Regions from separate parts of the Homo sapiens genome. Here region 1 is linked to region 2. The links come from fine-mapping of genetic effects on gene expression. A gene starts in region 2. The other region holds a variant in brackets. All regions are shown on one strand. Distances are from middle to middle. Region 1 has its middle 61 kb from the start of SUCLG1. Region 2 holds the start of SUCLG1 (succinate-CoA ligase GDP/ADP-forming subunit alpha).

What was found.
Region 1: its variant is fine-mapped to the expression of SUCLG1 in whole blood (TOPMed, PIP 0.97).

What each region holds. Positions count from the first base shown.
Region 1 is chr2:84,395,925-84,401,166 of GRCh38, reverse strand. No RefSeq gene overlaps it. Among named protein-coding and RNA genes, the nearest start is that of SUCLG1, 61 kb to the left of the region's middle. The variant T/C (reference allele first, on the strand shown) is at 2,429.
Region 2 is chr2:84,456,411-84,461,652 of GRCh38, reverse strand. It overlaps SUCLG1 (succinate-CoA ligase GDP/ADP-forming subunit alpha), which reads left to right and starts at 2,373. Exons shown (of 9, transcript NM_003849.4): 1 at 2,373-2,480. The coding sequence starts at 2,384. It also overlaps a transcript of DNAH6 not described here. RefSeq lists a silencer at 1,827-2,016 and an enhancer at 2,197-2,336.

The sequences.
Region 1 (5,242 bases), 60 kb after region 2:
TTTGCTGAAGTTGCTTCTGAGGCGATGGGGTTTTCTTTTTCTTTTTTTTTTTTTCTGAGACAGTCTCACTCTGTCACCCAGGCTGGATGGAGTGCGGTAGCATGATCTCCGCTCACTGCAAGCTCCGCCTCCCAGGTTCATGCCCTTCTGCCTCAGCCTCCCGAGCGGCTGGGACCATAGGCGCCCGCCACCACACCCGGCTAATTTTTTGTATTTTTAGTAGAGATGGGGTTTCACCGTGTTAGCCAGGATGGTCTTGATCTCTTGGCCTCGTGATCCGCCCGCCTCGGCCTCCCAAAGTGCTGGGATTACAGGCATGAGCCACCACGCCCTGCCTGACGATGGGGTTTTCTAAATATACAATCATGTCATCTGCAAACAGAGACAATTTGACTTCCTCTTTTCCTAATTGACTACCCTTTATTTCTTTCTCTTGCCTCATTGCCCTGGCCAGAACTTCCAATACTATGTTGAATAGCAGGGGTGAGAGAGGGCATCCTTGTCTTGTGCCAGTTTTCAAAGGGAATGCTTCCAGTTTTTGCCCATTCACTATGATATTGGCTGTGGGTTTGTTATAAATAGCTCTTATTATTTTGAGATATGTTCCATCAATACCTAGTTTATTGAGAGTTTTTAGCATGAAGAGGTATTGAATTTTATTGAAGGCCTTTTCTGCATCTATTGAGATAATTGTGGTTTTTGTCGTTGGTTCTGTTTATGTGATGGATTATGTTTATTGATTTGTGTATGTTGAACCAGCCTTGTATCCCTAGGATGAAACTGACTTGATCATGGTGGATAAGCTTTTTGATGTGCTGCTGGATTCAGTTTGTCAGTATTTTGTTGAGGATTTTTGCATCAATGTTCATCAGGGATGTTGGGCTGAAATTTTCTTTTTTTTGTTTGTCTCTGCCACGTTTTGGCATTAGGATGATGGTATCCTCATGAAATGAGTGAGGGAGGATTCCCTCTTTTTCTAAGTTTGGAATAGTTTCAGAAGTAATGGTGCCAACTCCTCTTTGTACCTCTGGTAGAATTTGGCTGTGAATCCATCTGGTCCTGGACTTTTTTTTGTTGGTAGGCTATTAATTACTGCCTCAATTTCAGAACTTGTTATTTGTCTATTCAGCAATTCAACTTCTTCTTGGTTTAGTCTTGGGAGGGTGTATGTGTCCAGGACTTTTCCATTTCTTCTAGATTTTCTAGTTTATTTGCATAGAAGTGTTTATAGTATTCTCTGATGGTAGTTTATATTTCTGTGGGATCGGTGATATTCCCTTTATTATTTTTTAATTGCATCAATTTGATTCTTCTCTGTTTTCTTCTTTATTAGTCTGGCTAGCAGTCTAAGTATTTTGTTGATCTTTTCAAAAAACCAGCTCCTGGATTCATTGATGTTTTGTGGGGTTTTTAGTGTCTGTATCTCCTTCAGTTCTGCTCTGATCTTAGTTATTTCTTGCCTTCTGCTGGCTTTTGAATTCATTAGCTCTTGCTTCTCTAGCTCTTTTAATTGTGATGTTAGGGTGTCAATTTTGGATCTTTCCTGCTTTCTCTTGTGGACATTTAGTGCTATAAATTTCCTTCTACACACTGCTTTAAATGTGTCCCAGAGATTCTGGTACGTTGTATCTTTGTTCTCATTGGTTTCAAAGAACATCTTTATTTCTTCCTTCATTTTGTTATTTACCCAGTAGTCATTCAGGAGCAGGTTTTTCAGTTTCCATGTAGTTGTGTGGTTTTGAGTGAGTTTCTTAATCTTGAGTTCTAATTCGATTGCACTGTGGTCTGAGAGACTGTTTGTTATGATTTCTGTTCTTTTGCATTTGCTAAGGAGTGTTTTACTTCCAATTATGTCGTCAATTTTAGAATAAGTATGATGTGGTGCTGAGAAGAATGTATATTCTGTTGATTTGGGGTGGAGAGTTCTGTAGATGTCTATGAGGTCCACTTAGTCCAGAGCTGAGTTCAAGTCCTGGATATCCTTGTTAACCTTCTGTCTCGTTGTCTGTCTAATATTGACAGTGGGGTGTTAAAGTCTCCCACTATTATTGTGTGGGAGTCTAAGTCTCTTTGTAGGTCTCTAAGAATTTGCTTTATGAATCTGGGTGTTCCTGTATCGTGTGTGTATATATTTAGGATAGTTAGCTATTCTTGTTGCATTGATCTTTTCACCATTATGTAATGGCCTTCTTTGTCTCTTTTGATCTTTATTGGTTTAATGTCTGTTTTATCAGTGACTAGGATTGCAACTCCTGCTTTCTTCTGCTTTCCATTTGCTTGGTAAATACTACACCATCCCTTTATTTTGAGCCTATGTGTGTCTTTGCATGTGAGATGGGTCTTCTGAATACAGCACACTGATGGGTCTTGACTCTTTATCCAGTTTGCCAGTCTGTGTCTTTTAATTGGGGCATTTAGCCAGTTTACA[T/C]TTAAGGTTAGTATTGTTATGTGTGAATTTGATCCTGCCATTATGATGTTAGCTGGTTACTTTGCCCATAAGTTGATGTGGTTTCTTCATAGTGTCGATGGTCATTACAATTTGGTTTGTTTTTGCAGTGGCTGGTGCCGGTTGTTTCTTTCCATGTTTAGGTGCTTCTTTCAGGAGCTCTTGTAAGGCAAGCCTAGTGGTGACAAAATCTCTCAGCATTTGCTTGTCTGAAAAGGATTTTATTTCTTTTTTGCCTATGAAGCTTAGTTTGGCTGGATATGAAATTCTGGGTTGAAAATTATTTTCCTTAAGTATGTTGAATATTGCCCCCACTCACTTCTGGCTTGTAGGGTTTCTGCTGAGATATCCAACATTAGTCTGATGGGCTTCCCTTTCTGGGTAACCCAACCTTTCTCTCTGGCTGCCCTTAACATTTGTTCTTTCATTTTTCCTTGGGCTGCACCAACTGTCCAACCAGTCCCAATGAGATGAACTGGGTACTTCAGTTGGAAATGCAGAAATCACCTGCCTTCTGTGTCAGTCTTGCTGGGAGCTGAAGACTGGTTATGTTCCTATTCAGCCATCTTCCCAGCAATCTAATATTCAAGTTCTGAAGAGAGATCTATGAATAGATGTCTATGCCTAAATTAGATTTTAGAATCTGTAAGTAGACGTTTTCCAAAGTCTGTGCCAATGACTTGTTGATGGTCATTTAAAAAAACTGAATGGAAAGGAAACGATTTTCTTTTGAAGATGAAAGGCATCTTTTTGTATCATAGGTGAAGTTAGAGATATGGATAGGACAAGAACAATTTCCAAATTCATTGCAGTGCTCAACTGTTATAGCATGGTTTCTGACTAATGCTTTCCCAGGTTGATTTATACTGATTATTGGCATCCCATAAATTTATTAATCTTAAAACATTTTTACTCTTCTCATTTCTAATTATCCTTTCCTTTCTTCATCATTCCTGTCTTGGTATTGTAGCATTTCATTTTAGAGAAATAGTGTATTTTATTTATTCCACATTGTTATGTTAATGTTTTTCTTTTAACGTTGCTGTCCTACACTTCTCCCTGTTCCTTGTGAGCTATGTTTATAGAAGCTTCAATGAGTCTGTATTCTTAATAAACTCTGTGATCTGCCTTCTTTTGTCTGAGTTTAGGCCCTCATCATCCTACACCACAATGATTGCAGTATCTTACCTTTCTTCACTCCACCCTCTTCTGTCTCCCAGAATACTCCCAACAGTACGTCATTTGCTTACCACTCTTCAATGGCTTCTCATTTTGTTTTAGATGAAGGTCTAATTGCCTTCCTGTGGCATGAAGCCCATCCTGCTGATGGGTGACTGCTTCTACTGCAGCTCCCTCAAATACACCCTGTTCTGGCTACACAACTTCACTGGCCATTCTGGAATCTGCCCTTCTGGTGAGGCCTCTCTGCATCTGCATGTGCCATTCCTCGGTAGAATGCTAAGTCCTCTACAGTGTACAGCTTGTACATTGAACAATTTCCCACTCACCTTTCCAACCTCAGTTCAGGGTCACCTTCTCCATGAAACTTTTCAGTGCCCTCTGAGTCCAGGCAGATTGGCTGTATCCTCCTGTTTGTTTGGTATATGCTTTCTTTTCTAGACTGTGAACTTCTTAAAGGCAAGGAGCGTGTCTCTATTTCTATTCCCAGAGTCCAGCGCAGTACTTGCCCCTATTCATATTTGTTGAATAAATGAGGAAAACAATAATATAGTATAACTATAAGAAAAAAGGATTTGTTTTGTACATAATAGATAACATGACTTATGATTCTTGTGTGCTTTTTTTCTGTTTTAATGAGAGTGACTTGCCTTCCCAGCTGTGCTGTGAGTTTTATATGGACAAGGACCATGTTTTATACTTGGTTGGTGCCCACTTGGTCCTTACTAGAGTGTTGAGTGTATAACAAAATTCCAGTAAATATTGTTTGATCAATGAAGGACTAAGTGCAGCATATATTCTGATTACTTATATTGAACTATATAATGTTTTCTTTTAAAATAAGGGTGTGACAAACTAGCAATAATAATGTACTAATTACATGAACAAGGTCATACACGTGGACATATGTAGAAAGGCTCAAATACCAAGGGCCATGTTCATTCCCCTTCAGTGGAGTCAATGCCACATGGCCACCAGGTGATGCTCATTAGTCCAATCTTTCTCCAGCAGCCAAGGACCCAGGAGAGTTGCACCTGCCAATTAGGAGGAAGTCTTGAAATTTCCTTCTGGTGTACTCACTAATTTTAATTTTTTTTCCTTCTTAAAAATAGAAAAGCTAAAAAAACCATGTGTCTTCACTCTCAGTCTATACACAATCTTATGAGTATCCTTTAGTTTTTCTTTTTCTTTCTAGGAGAGATTGTTCTTCTTTCCAATGATACAAAAATGACATAGGATGGAATCCTTTAACATCCAAAAGCTTATCAGTTTATTAGCCCAATGTCTCTCAATAGTTAAAAATAGTGCTTTAGGCCAGTGATTCCCAAAGCGTGGTTCCCAAGGCAGCAGCAATAGGGATTACCCAGAAACTTGTTAAAGATGTACATTCTTGGGCCTCACCCCAGACTCAGTGACTCAGAAACTCTAGGGCCGCAGTCATCTATGTTTTAACAAACTCTCCAGGGGATATTAATTCTGCTGCATGCCAACGTGTGAGAACCAGTGCTTTAGACCTTTAACAGTCATACAGCAGTGCTAGAGCAAGATACTACCAGGTCTCATAGCTGCCAGGAAGGAGGTGGAGAAGAGTCATTAGGAGACAAGCTTTGAAGCCAG
Region 2 (5,242 bases):
TGACAGTAGCTTTATATACTAAATGTATTAAATGTTCACAACACTCTTATGAAATAGGGAGTTTCATACCCATCTCAGTAATAAAACCTGAAACCCAGAGGTCATGTAGCCAGTGGCAGAGTTGGAATTTGAACCCAGACCTGTCTGATTTCCAAACTCAATCTGCATACAAAGATGAGTGGTGTGGTATTGACTAGTGTGGTTGTCCCCTACCTATGAGCTACAGAATTGAGGTAGGGGTGTTCCCGGACCAAACTGAGGGTTGGGCTGCTATTTTTTGTGGCCCAATAATGAGATGTAGATGAACTGGGGAGGAAGAGAGTTTTTATTTCTGCAACCGATTACAGGGAGAAGGCCTGGAAATTATCATCAGACCAACTTAAAATTACAGTTTTCCAGAGCTTATATACCTTCTAAGCTATATGTTTACTTGTAAGTGTGCATTTATCTAAAGACATAAGTGATTAACTTCTTTTAATCTATAACTAAGGTCTGAGTACTGAAGACCATCCTCTGAAGCCTCAATAAATTTACTTAATCTACATGGGTTTAGGTGCTGGGGTGATTACCCTTATCTTATCCCCTGCTAAATCACAGAGGTTTGGAGAGTTCTTTCAGACCTCCAATAAACTTGTTTGTGGAGGCCTGGGGAGTTTCTTCGGACCTCCAATAAAACTTGTTTAATCCTAAATGGGTCCTGTTAAGAATTTCTTCATTAATTTGTCATGCTTCAAGGCCCAGGAAAGGCCTAGGCAAAACCCTTGGTGGGTTTCTGTTACATCTCAGCCTTTGTATAAGGGCACTGGCTTTTAATATTTAACTTAACCACTCAGTCAGCACTGAAACATTGTTATGGAGGCCTGCGTTAGTGAGACCTGGTCTGCCACAGGGGTGCAGTTATTACAAGAGGTTGAAATATCCTAAGTCCATCAAACATTGCCTGTGGATCCAAAAAATAATCTATATACTACTATTTCTCCTATATATATCAATTCAATTCAACGATGAGTTATTTGTGTAAGGCATTGTTCTAGGTGCTGGGGATACTCCAGGATACAAAACAAACAAAAATCCCCGTCTTCATGGAAATACAAATTTTCATTAAAAGTGTACTGAAATTATATTTTTTGTCATCATGCATTTTATCAATTAAATGAAACTAAACATATAACTTATCAAGCGACAGCTCAGGAATAATTTTGCTATTTAAAATAGCAAGGGATTTTCTATTTATTTGCCATAAAAATGTCCATTTTGTTATAATGGATATATCTGGAAACCACTGATACTATTTAACTCTGAGGAATTTAGTTATCACAAGAACATGATCCATGAGGGAGGAGTTTATTTGCAGTGAAGTCCAACCTGTTAATGACAATATTTGGATCATAAAGGAAGTATTGGGCAATCTCCTGGGGTAATCCCACTCATCCATCCCACAGCTCAGTGCCAATTATAATGACTACCTAAGTAAATTAGGATTGCAATTTTATTGACAATTCTGATGAGGAATCTCAGGAGCACGATTTTCGGCAGAGACGCAGATTACTTCATCTCTTGTTTACCTTTTGACTCTGGGACTCTCTGAGGTTCCTTCTAAAGCTGTTACAGAAGAGGGAACTGTTTGTCCAATCAGGGAGCAAAGTCACATTTGACCTCGAATTTCAGCCCTTAGGATCCTCAGGGAATAAACACTCATGCACTTAGTGCTAGTCAAAGACTGCATGATTATTTAACTAAAAAAATTCACATTCCAAGAAGTTAACTGTCAGTAAGATAGGTTTTGGTCTTTCTCATCACATCTTTCCCTTCACAGGCCACCAGTGCCAGTTCGAATTCCCGTCCCCAGCGGCAACCCTTCCGGGTCCAGGCACAGGTACGCGGTGAGAAATATTATTCTCTCTAATAGCAAACGAGGAAAACGAAGGGGGAAGGAGATGGGCCTGGGATACAAAGTTCTGGCACTGCTCTTCGCACCTCACCTCGCTGTTTCTTCCCTCCTAGTCTTCAAGTCCCTTGTCTCCCCGGTCTCACTGCCGCTCTTCCCTCGCTCCCTTCCCGCCGCCTCACTCAAAAGCTACGAACCAGTCGCGGCCGTCAGACTACATTGCCCACAATGCCACGCGCTGGCCAGTCTCGCGTGGGGTTTTCCCTCAGCTGCTGTTATAATTAATGTTAATCAAACCCACATTTCTAGGAAGGAGCCGAGTTATTATCTGCCTCTCCGATAGGATGCCTCTTTGTCTTCACCTGCCATTCCCGCTGTTTCGTGAAGAATCCTCTGTAAAGGGAAATTTGTTCAGGCGACTGCTGTGGCCACCCTCTGCCTCCTCCGGCCTCTGCCCCTGGGAGGTCCCCGGGGGCCTGGGAGTGTCATTGGCGTATGACCGCAACCCTTGCCGCTGCCGCTGACATCGCTACCATGGTCTCCGGCAGCAGCGGCCTCGCCGCCGCCCGTCTCCTGTCGCGCAGCTTCCTCCGTGAGTCCAGCCAGTACTGTCTTCCTGGCGCCCGCGGGTTATTGGCCCCGCCGGACCCAACCTCCTGGCCCAGGCCGCGGCTGGGCCCTCAGGGCTGGACCTCGGCGGGGGCCTGGGAGCCGCTTGGGATTCCGGCTTCGAGTCGGGGACCCCTACGGTGGAAGGAGCTTTGCTGGATACGTGGGGCGGGGGGCATGACTTAGGCCGCTGGCAGATGGAGATATTGGGTGGCTGAGCCAGGATTCGGGTCCGGGAGCCCTGCAAATTTGGGAGCTTGCTCTCGGCCCCGCGGTGACAAATGACAGGATGGGGGTGGCGTCTAGACTGGCCTTATTTGGAGTTGGGGATGAAGAGGTCCAAGGTGAACTTGGTGGGGAAGGTAAGGGTCTGGGTTGAGAGGTAGAGGAAGAGTGTCTCAGTAGGAAGTTGGGGGATGAGGCTGTCCCTAGTACGGAAAGGTCCTGCACTTCGAATTCCCCCTCTGCAGGATTGTATGTCAGGGAAAGATGGTTTCTGCACACGGAGTGGGGTCGGCATAGCCGCATAGACTACTAGAAGCTTATGGTTGGCTGGGACCTAAACCAGCTTATTTGCAGTGTCTCCACCAGGCGATTTGTGGACACATCCGTTCCCGAAAACTTAGTACCCAAGGTTGCTAGTCTTTGAGACACGCTGACTATGGAAAATTCTTGCCATATTCAAAGTCTCTGTGCTTGTCAGGTAGGTTATAGTAGAAAGAAACTTTGGAATCAGCCACATCAGGGTTTGAAGTCTGGCTAGTCCCTTTTCAGTCTGTGTAATAACCCTGGACACTTAATCTGTTTTTCAGTGTTTCCAATCACATGAAAATATTAACACATTTTAAGGGGCCTGAAGCACCATCACTTGTAAGGTGGACCATTATTTTGTTTACCACTAACAATGAAGAACGATTGCTTATTAAAACTGTGACACACCAGTGGTTGTCACATGTATCCTGGTTTTTTAAAAAGTGAAAAAAAATGTGCATTTTAGCAATGATGATGTACAGGATGATCTGGGTTCACTGCAGAATAAGTGGAGCAATTTATATAAAGCATCTCGTATGTAACAAACACTCAAAGTTAGTTTTCTTTTTCCGCTTTGCTCTTAATTCTGCTTGTACTGAATATTTTATGAGACTTAATTCCTTTCTTGAGAAGATTACATTCTGAAAGTGTACATTGATGAGTGTGCACTCAATAGCTAACACTTAGTTGCCAATCACTTGAGGACAAAGGTCTGGCTAGATAACGTTAGCAAGTATGAAATGGTTTGTTTGGTAAAGCTTTCTGGAGATTCTTGAGAGTGTTGTAGGCAGAAGGACAAAAAGAATTCATTATACCCAGTAATCACTCAGGTCAATAAAGTTTGAGCACCAAGAATGAAGTATATTGGATATGGTTTTAAACCAGCTTAATTTGAATAGATAGTGGGTTAGAATGTAGAAGATCAGATGTGCAGCACAGCCACTGTGGTGGGAAACCCTAGGAAGAAGTTGCCCACCTGTGTCTTTCGCTTCTGTGGTCTTGCTAGTCTGAGGTTCTGAAAGATCCTAGCCTCAGGTAGGTCTGCTGTCTAGAAAAATCTAGAGAATAAAGGAAGAGTGTCTAAAAGATCTAGTTCCTTACTCCACCCTTAGCAGTCCTCTCAATCCTCTTCCCACAGAACTGGAAGTGTGTTCTTCCTAGACTCCCAGGATCATTTGGCCCTAGAGTGACCATCTGGTTTAGTTTTGTTACTGGAGTGGGCTTGAATTATTCAAGTCATGTGATTAACTTGTTATTACGGGTCTGAGATTTAAACCAAGATGTATTCTATATTAAGAGGGGTTACAGACAACAATGCTTAATGTGTAAACACCTCTAAATTCACAAAACTCTAACTCCTCTTTCCCATGCCACATTTCCGAGCCCATTTTCACTCCCACTAGAAAAATAGCAGCTACAACATCACCTTGCAAACTTTTTTTTTAAAAAGGGACCAGAAATTATTTAGTCTGTGAAGCTAATAGAGCTACAGATGTTAGGGAATTTTGTTCCCTCTGTTAAGTTTCAACTTATGGTACATTACTTGCTGAAGGTCATAGTGTTGCAATATTGATTAGAGTTAACAGCCACAGAAAAAACTCAAGTGAACACTGGTAGATGCCTTCCGGAGCCCTGTTTTATAGCTTATGAAAAAAGGAAAAGTGGCCTGGCACGGTGGCTCATGCCTGTAATCCCAGCACTTTGGGAGGCTGAGGCGGGTAGATCACAAGGTCAGGAGTTCAAGACCAGCCTGGCCAAGATGGTGAAACCCCGTCTCTACTAAAAATACAAAAATTAGCCAGGTGTGGTGGCAGGCGCCTGTAATCCCAGCTACTCAGGAGGCTAAGGCAGGAGAATTGCTTGAACCCGGGAGGTGGAGCTTGCAGTGAGCTGAGATCGTGCCACTGTACTCCAGCCTGGGCAACAGAGTGAGACTCTGTCTCAGAAAAAGAGAAAAAAGGAAAAGGATCCAGTTGAAGTGGAGAGAGAAAATACAATGAAAAATGAGGAAGAGTTCTTCCATGAGAAAGTTTAAGGATTTCATAAGCACCCTTGAAGTTGAAATAGTGAAGTTTTAAGAGAAGCATAAAGTAATGCAAGGTCTTTTTAAAACTGGTCAGTAGTTTCTGTAACTTGAATCTTTTAGAATAAATAGGGAATAAAAGCCAGTATTTTTGAACCTCAGAATTTTGGTATTTTAATGCCAGAAAGTAA